Homo sapiens: one gene and its partner. The protein of the gene in region 2 interacts with the protein of the main gene of each other region in a pairwise test. Each region holds a gene or a part of one and is shown on either strand. Other genes may lie near its edges.

Region 1 (3,500 bases), on a different chromosome or scaffold from region 2:
GGGATTTTATGTTAAACATGAGAATGTAATGGTGGGCTGCCATATTTGAATTTAATTACTGTAGCCTGTTATCCAAAACATCATGAAAACACTGGAGAAAATGAGAAAAATGACATGAGGCATGGGAGATGAAAATGATGCTGCAGAGGAAATTATGGCAACAGATGTGGCTCTCTCTGAGGTATTGGCTCAAATTCATGATTTACAGAGAAGGGTAAGCATCTCCCAGAGAGTCTTCTCCAGAGTTAGATAACTCTTTACTTTTCTAGGTATTGGAAGCAAACAAAAACATACTTTTCCATCAATAAATGCCTGAAGAAGTGCAAAGCATTTTTCAGAACAGCAAAATCTGCAGGCTATCTTTCACTCCTATAGCATCTCTTACGCTGACAACGGAGTGTTTCATACTATACCTCAAATAAGACCGATACTAAATCTGTTCCAAAAACTATGAGGAAAACAAATGATAAATAATGCAAGCTGGTGAACAAAAGAGAAGACAACAAAGAAAGGACTTTTGAAATACCATTTCACTCCTACTCACTATGTCATTCAGCTGATCAATATACTCTATGCTTTAAATTTTTTGAACCTGCCCTCCCCAAAAACATATGTGTGTATGTGTGTTTATGTATATATATATATATGTTATATATATGGTGTGTGTGTATATATATATATATATATATATATATATATACATATATATATAAAAAACAACATTCATCCTTACTACATGCATTCTGATATATTCTACCTCATTTTTATAATGCTGGAATTCACTCCATGATCCACTAATAGGTGGCATCTTACAATTTTTAAAAATCCACTGTAGACAATAGATGTGAAGATTTTGGAAGTACACAGGGAGGACTATGGACATCCTGTGATGTGAGAACCACATTCAGGCATCCTGGGAGAAGATTAAGTTAGAAATATAGGAAATCACTTGTGTTAAGGCTGGCACAAACAGATATTTGGTAAATATCAGTTTTCACAACTCCTCCTGCAATATTACTATCCCCCAAGGCTTACAGAAGTGATGCTATTCCAACATCATCATAAGTCAATGAGCTGCCAGTCAAGGTTAACTACCTTAATGTTTAAATTCACCAACATCAAGGAATGGGACTGGAACATCCCAACATCAAGGAAAGGCTACTTAAGTGACCTTTTCTGAAAAAAGCAGCCTATCATTTTTAAGAAAATGCCTTTTCTAATCAGTCACTGTATTAGGCTGTTCCTGTGTTGCCATAAAGGAATGCCTGAAACTGGGTAATTTATAAAGAAAAGAGGTTTAATTGGCTCAGGGTTCTGCAGGCTGTACAAGCATGGTACAGGCATCTGCTCGGCTTCTAGGGAGGCCTGAGGGAGCTTTTAGTCATAGCAGAAGGCAAAGGGGAAGCAGGCATCTCCCTTGGTGAGAGGCAAGGCAAGCAAGTGTGGGGAGATGCCACACACTTTTAAACAACCAGTCGACCAGGCACAGTGGCTCCCATCTGTAATCCCAGCAATTTGGGCCACCAAGGCAGGTAGATTGCTTGAGTTCAGAAGTGCAAAACCAGCCTGGGCAACATAGGCAGACCCCATCTCTACAAAAATAAAAAAAAAAAAATTAGCCAGGCATGGTGATGCATGTCTGTAATCTCAGCTACTCAGGAGTCTGAGGTGGGAGGATTGCTTGGGCCCAGGAGGTTAAGGCTGCAGTGGGCCATGATTGTGCCACTGCACTCCAACTAGGGTGACAGAGCAAGACCCTGTCTCAAAAAAAAAATTAAAAAATAAACCACCAGATCCTGCAAGAACGAATTCACTATTACAAGAAGAGTACCAAGCCATGAGGGATCCACTCCCATGACCCAAACACATCCCATCAGGCCCCACCTCCGACAACGAGGATAACATTTCAACATGAGATTTGGGCAGGACAAATATCTAAACCCTATCAGCCATTTTTATAGGAAAATTTCTGAAGTATATGAAACACTGACTTTCCTTCTTAAAAAGACTACACAGAACAGAATTTAGCCTTTTCTCAAGGACATGGTGTCATAAATAGATATATACAATGGTAATTTTAGGGCTGGTAGATCCCTACCTTGGAGATCATCTATTGAAATTTCTCACTTTACAGATGAACTAAATGATGTCACAAGAAATTCTGTAATTTTCCCAAAATCACACAATAGGATGGTCATGTGATTATCATACACCATGCTGCCACATCTACTACTGTATGGTGCTAAACACTATCTAGCAAGATAATCAGGATTTAGGGGCAGTACTCCTTATAATTTCCATGTTTATCTTTGCTATCCCTTCTCTTTCCCCATAATCTTTAGCAATAAAACTTTTTTTTTTTTTTGAGATAGGGTCTTGCTCTGTTGCCCAGGCTGAAGTGCAGTGACACAACTATAGCTCACTGCAGCCTCAAACTCCCAGTTTCAGGCAATCCTCCCACCTCAGCCTTCCAAGTAGCTGGGACTACAGGCACGTGTCACCATACCCAATTAATTTTTGTATTTTTTTTGTAGAAATACAGTTTTGCTGTGTCACCCATTTCAGCTACTTGGGAGGCTGAGGTTTCAAACTCCTGAGCTCAAGCAATCCACCTGCCTCGGCTTCCCCAAGTGCTGGGATTACAGGCCTGAGCCACTGCACCTGGCCAATGAAACTTTTTTTTTTTTTTGAGACAGTCTCACTCTGTTTCTCTGACTAGAGTGCAGTGGTGCCATCTAAGCTCACTGCAACCTCCGCCTTCCAGGATCAAGGGATGCCTGTGCCTTAGCCTATAGAGTAATGGGGATTACAGGCCCGTGCCACCATGCTTGGCTAACAATAAAACTCTTAAATCAAAAGAATATATGTGTTTATCCTATGCAGTAGAAAAATTAAGCTAACCTACTCTGCAGCCCATCTTAGGGGAAGAACTCCAAAAGATGTGAGCAGTGTGCTTTTAAAAAGAAAAAATGCAGGCTGAATGTCTACATGGTCTTCAAAAAGAAAGAAGGATGCAATGAAAAGCCTACATTGTCTTAAGAACAGCTTTGGGGATATGACTGTTAGGAAGGCCAGAACGTTCCTGAGAATAGGCAATACAGTAAACTTCACAAGGGAAGGGACTAGGTTCTCAGTAAATGTGGGTTGAATGACCTGAAAAATGAGTATTTGTCACTACACTAAATGTTATCAGGCCTTTGTGATGTTTGATGTAAGTTTGCATTTTAGGTGTTTTTCTCTTCCCTTTCCTATACAAACTGTCATTTGTATGTCTAATAGCAACCCCACCAAACATAGTCTTTGCAGAAGTTGATAACATTCCTTGTATCTTCTAAGGGGGTGGTTCTAATATGCTGAGCTTGCTAGAATTATTTTTAAAATGAGGATGAATATGTTCTAAGTGATGATCTCAGGGATTCCCCTATGTATGAAGCATGTCAATATTATCATATAGATCTTATAACTTCCATCTTGACTGCTCTTCTGTTGAGTTCTTGGCT
Region 2 (3,560 bases):
CAAGTATTCTCAAAGGTACTTCAACCGTAGAATGCTACTCATGGGGACCGATAGTGTTGTTCAGGCAGGACGGAGCAAGGACACCCTGGCCCATTCCTGGGAACGTGGAGCCCTTGAGCCTCCCCAGCTATGGTGAATGGGGGCCAGGGCAGGGGGAACATGTGGAAGGTGCAGGGGTCATGGGAAAAAATTGTATGATGCTTCCAGCTGGAGAAACTCACAGCTGCTCTGTAGCTTACCAGAGCCAGAACCTGAGCCCAAGCCCTATTCCTGCTTGGAATCTAGACCCAGTCCCAGCCCCCACCCCAAACCAGAAGGTAAACAAAAGCTCAGCCTTCACCCTGAATTCTGCCCCAAACACTGAAGCCTTGGCTCTCTCTGAGAGGAAACAATAGGATGGCGCAGAAAGAAGGAGCTGGCAACACCCCATGTCTCTTCCCTTTCTTTTCAAAAAATAAAAGTGATGAAGGTGGTGGTGTAGTGATAGCAGCGACAACAGCTTGGTAGCCTGAGAGGGCCTCTCCATTCTTTATTCAGTCCCAATAAGTTAAAGGGCAAGGGTAGGGGGCAGGGCCTCTTAGGTGAGGACGCTGCTAACTGAAGGCAGCAGTTCAGCCAGTTGCTCCAAGATGCCCACCGCTTGGCACAGCGGGTTACCCTGCAGGTTGAGGAGGACCAGCCTGGGGCAGGAGGCAAGAGGCTGGAGCACTGCAGGCTGCTGGAGGCCTTGTTCAGGAGAGTCAAGGAAAGCTTGGCAGGTTCCTCCCAATTTATTTGCTCCTGTGTACCCTCAAGAGCTGGGGACTGCTGCCTGGAAGTCTGTTTGATGGGCATCTCATATGCTCCCTGGAGGGAGTCAGGCTCTAGGCAGGGACTGCAAATGCCTACCCACAGGGTCAGCCAGGAAAGAATGAGCCGCAACACCCCACGCAAGCTGGTGTAGTATCAGGGGAGTGGTGCAGGGTATGATAAGGTGGAAATCTAGCCTGGTCCAAAGAGACATTTACTATTCAGCAATGACCAAGGGCTGCTGAGTGAAAATACCAGTGTAAGGTTGCTCTAACTTCCAATTTTTAAGAGAGGAATTAGAACTCTAGATGTTTTTTAAAGTATGAAAGTTCCTGATTTTCAAAAAACTACATAGACCTGAAGAACAGCTGCGGGCTGCCCATTTGTGAACTCTGACTTGAGGAAGTCCACTCCGCACAACTCCACCAGTGCAGGTCAGTGATAGCCCGACAGCCCCAGGCTCTCCCCCTTCAACTCACACTACAGAGCCCCCTCTCTCCTGCCCTGCAAGAGGGTGGCACATACCCTGCCTGCTGTCTGTCCCTTCCCAGGGTGGCACCTCACTTTACCCACTGTCTGAAAGGCACCCAGAAGGAAGGATACGGTTGTTGCACAGTAGCAGCTCCTGCAGCCGGGGTAGGTTGGTGACGCCGTCCAGGGACTCTATGGCATTATCACTGGCCTGCAGCACCTGGGGGCAGGGAGGGCAGGGAGGCAGGACAGGCGCTGTCAGCCAGGGATGGTTCAGCAACTGAGGAGCTCAGGGTGACGGGTCCACAGAGCACAGAGGGGCTCACAGGGTCAGGCTGCGTGATGGAGGTGGAAGGCACGCAGTTACCTGTTCGGGGTGGAGGGTCCTGCACATCTCCTTGTAGGATGGGCAGACTTCTGAGGGAGAGGAAGAGGAAAAGAACCACCCGTGACAGGGACGGAGACATGGGTACTTTACCTCAAGGCAGCGCAGGGCAGCCAGTGCAGGTGGCAGGGTTCGGAGGCGATTGTGTGACAAGTCAAGATGGGTGACCAAGAGCAGCTGTTCCAGATGGCAGAGCACTGTCAGATCCTGGGGGGTGAAGGGAGGAAGGAGGTGATGGGCTTCCCAGGAGACCTGGGAGAGGGTCCTCGGCCAGCATTTATTAGGCACATGCCCTCTGTGCCCCACAGGCCCTTGGGGACCCCAGCCAAGAAGAGGATGGGAGCATGTGGGAAGCTGACCTTACAGCCCACAGCAGTACATGACGTGGGACAGACAGTGCTGCGAGTGGGGTAACCAGTGGGGTGGGTGAGGAGGAGGAGGCCTGGAGTTCGGAGGTACAGGGGCCAGTGGAGGGTGCTGGGTAAACAAAGACTGGTCCCCCATGGGGACTGGTCCTGATGAGGCAGAGATGAGTTTGGCAGGAATGGAGGTGGGCTGTGGTGATGTGATAAAACTAATGTGTTGGGAAGGACTAGGAAAGTGGAGCCTGGACAACTTCTCAGGAATCTCTGGAAAGTATTTGGCCTTCAGGTATTGGAGGTTGCTCCAGGGTGAGATGTGCTGGAATGTGTGGGAGGAGTGGGCTAGCGGTCACTCTGAAGGAAGATGAAGCTGTGACCAGCCTGGGGAAGAAACAGCACAAGGAGGTCCTGGTGACTCGGGATTTGAAAGTGAGTGGCAAGAAGAAGAATGGGCTGAGTGACAGAAAGGCCTGGAAGAGGAGCAAGCTGGGAGGCAGGGATGAACTCTATCTTGATTGGAAGTCCACAAAGGCACCTGAGACTGGGGGCAAAGTCAGGGACGTGGGGAGGCCAGCGGGATGAGGGCCAGGGGAAGGCATGCATGGCAGCCCATACCTTGTGAGCCAGGTGCAGCACACGCACCTCGGCATACTCCATCTTGAGCACGCTATTCTCCAGCAAGAACTTGCTGCGCAGGTCATCCAGATACGTTGCCCGCATGGGGTCCACGGCCTGGAGTGGATGAGGTGGGCAGGGTATGCATGTCAGCTGCCTGCCTCCTGCCTGCTGGGCCTCCCCCTGGTCTGTTCTGCAGACAGAACTTGCCTTGAGGGTCTGGAAGTACTGCAGGGTCTCCTTCTCATACAGCAGGGGGTCCAGTGCCCGCATCAGCAGGATGATGGTAAGCAGGCACCCTGAGGAGAGGGCAGGGAAAAGGAGGGTTTCTCTTGGAACCTCCTCTGCTCCCATCCTCCTGAGGCCTTCCTGCTGTCCTCTCAGGGCCACACTGGAAAGGGGTTTCCTCAGCGGGCTCTGGGAGCAGACTCTCACGGAATGGGGCCTCACATTTATTCTCAGGCTCCAGCTCCTGCAGCTCCTTACAGGATTCCAGCTCAGACTGCAGCACTGTGGACTTCTCCACTGACAGCTCACACCTGAGGGTGGGCAGGGTGGGGAGGAGTTGAGGCCCACAGCCCTGAAGCACTGGTCAACATTCCCAGTATCTAGACTGAAACAGCTCCTTGAGGCCCCAGCCTCCTGCCCTGGCTGCCTGATGCCCAGAGTCCAGAGCCCCTCTCCTTGTTTTGTGCTTCCCTATCACCACCTGAATAGCTGCTCGTCTGTCGTGGAGTCCCGGCACCAGCCCTCCTGGCGGCCTGGGGAAAGAGTAGGTGGTTGGAGGGTGCACCCTTGAGAGGAAAAGAGTGATGGGGGCTGCTGCAAGGGGTGGAGGCTGCAGGTTCCATCACCTTTTAAAAGCACGCATTCTTTCTGGACATCGCCTGCTGTCCAAATGACGCGAAATGTATGTTGGGGCAACTGGTCGTTGAGGG

The links.
Region 1: the proteins of RABGGTA (region 2) and CHM interact in binary tests that used the Homo sapiens proteins (3 or more experiments, as listed by UniProt).

The regions. Positions count from the first base shown.
Region 1 is NC_000023.11:86,041,059-86,044,558, forward strand, and holds part of CHM (rab proteins geranylgeranyltransferase component A 1), read right to left. Parts: intron 1-3,500. UniProt on the Homo sapiens protein: Substrate-binding subunit of the Rab geranylgeranyltransferase (GGTase) complex.
Region 2 is NC_000014.9:24,265,038-24,268,597, forward strand, and holds the end of RABGGTA (geranylgeranyl transferase type-2 subunit alpha), read right to left. Parts: coding exon 3,477-3,560; intron 3,384-3,476; coding exon 3,332-3,383; intron 3,162-3,331; coding exon 3,073-3,161; intron 2,922-3,072; coding exon 2,833-2,921; intron 2,740-2,832; coding exon 2,623-2,739; intron 1,853-2,622; coding exon 1,739-1,852; intron 1,481-1,738; coding exon 1,393-1,480; intron 727-1,392; coding exon 578-726; 3' UTR 501-577; downstream 1-500. UniProt on the Homo sapiens protein: Catalyzes the transfer of a geranylgeranyl moiety from geranylgeranyl diphosphate to both cysteines of Rab proteins with the C-terminal sequence -XXCC, -XCXC and -CCXX, such as RAB1A, RAB3A, RAB5A and RAB7A.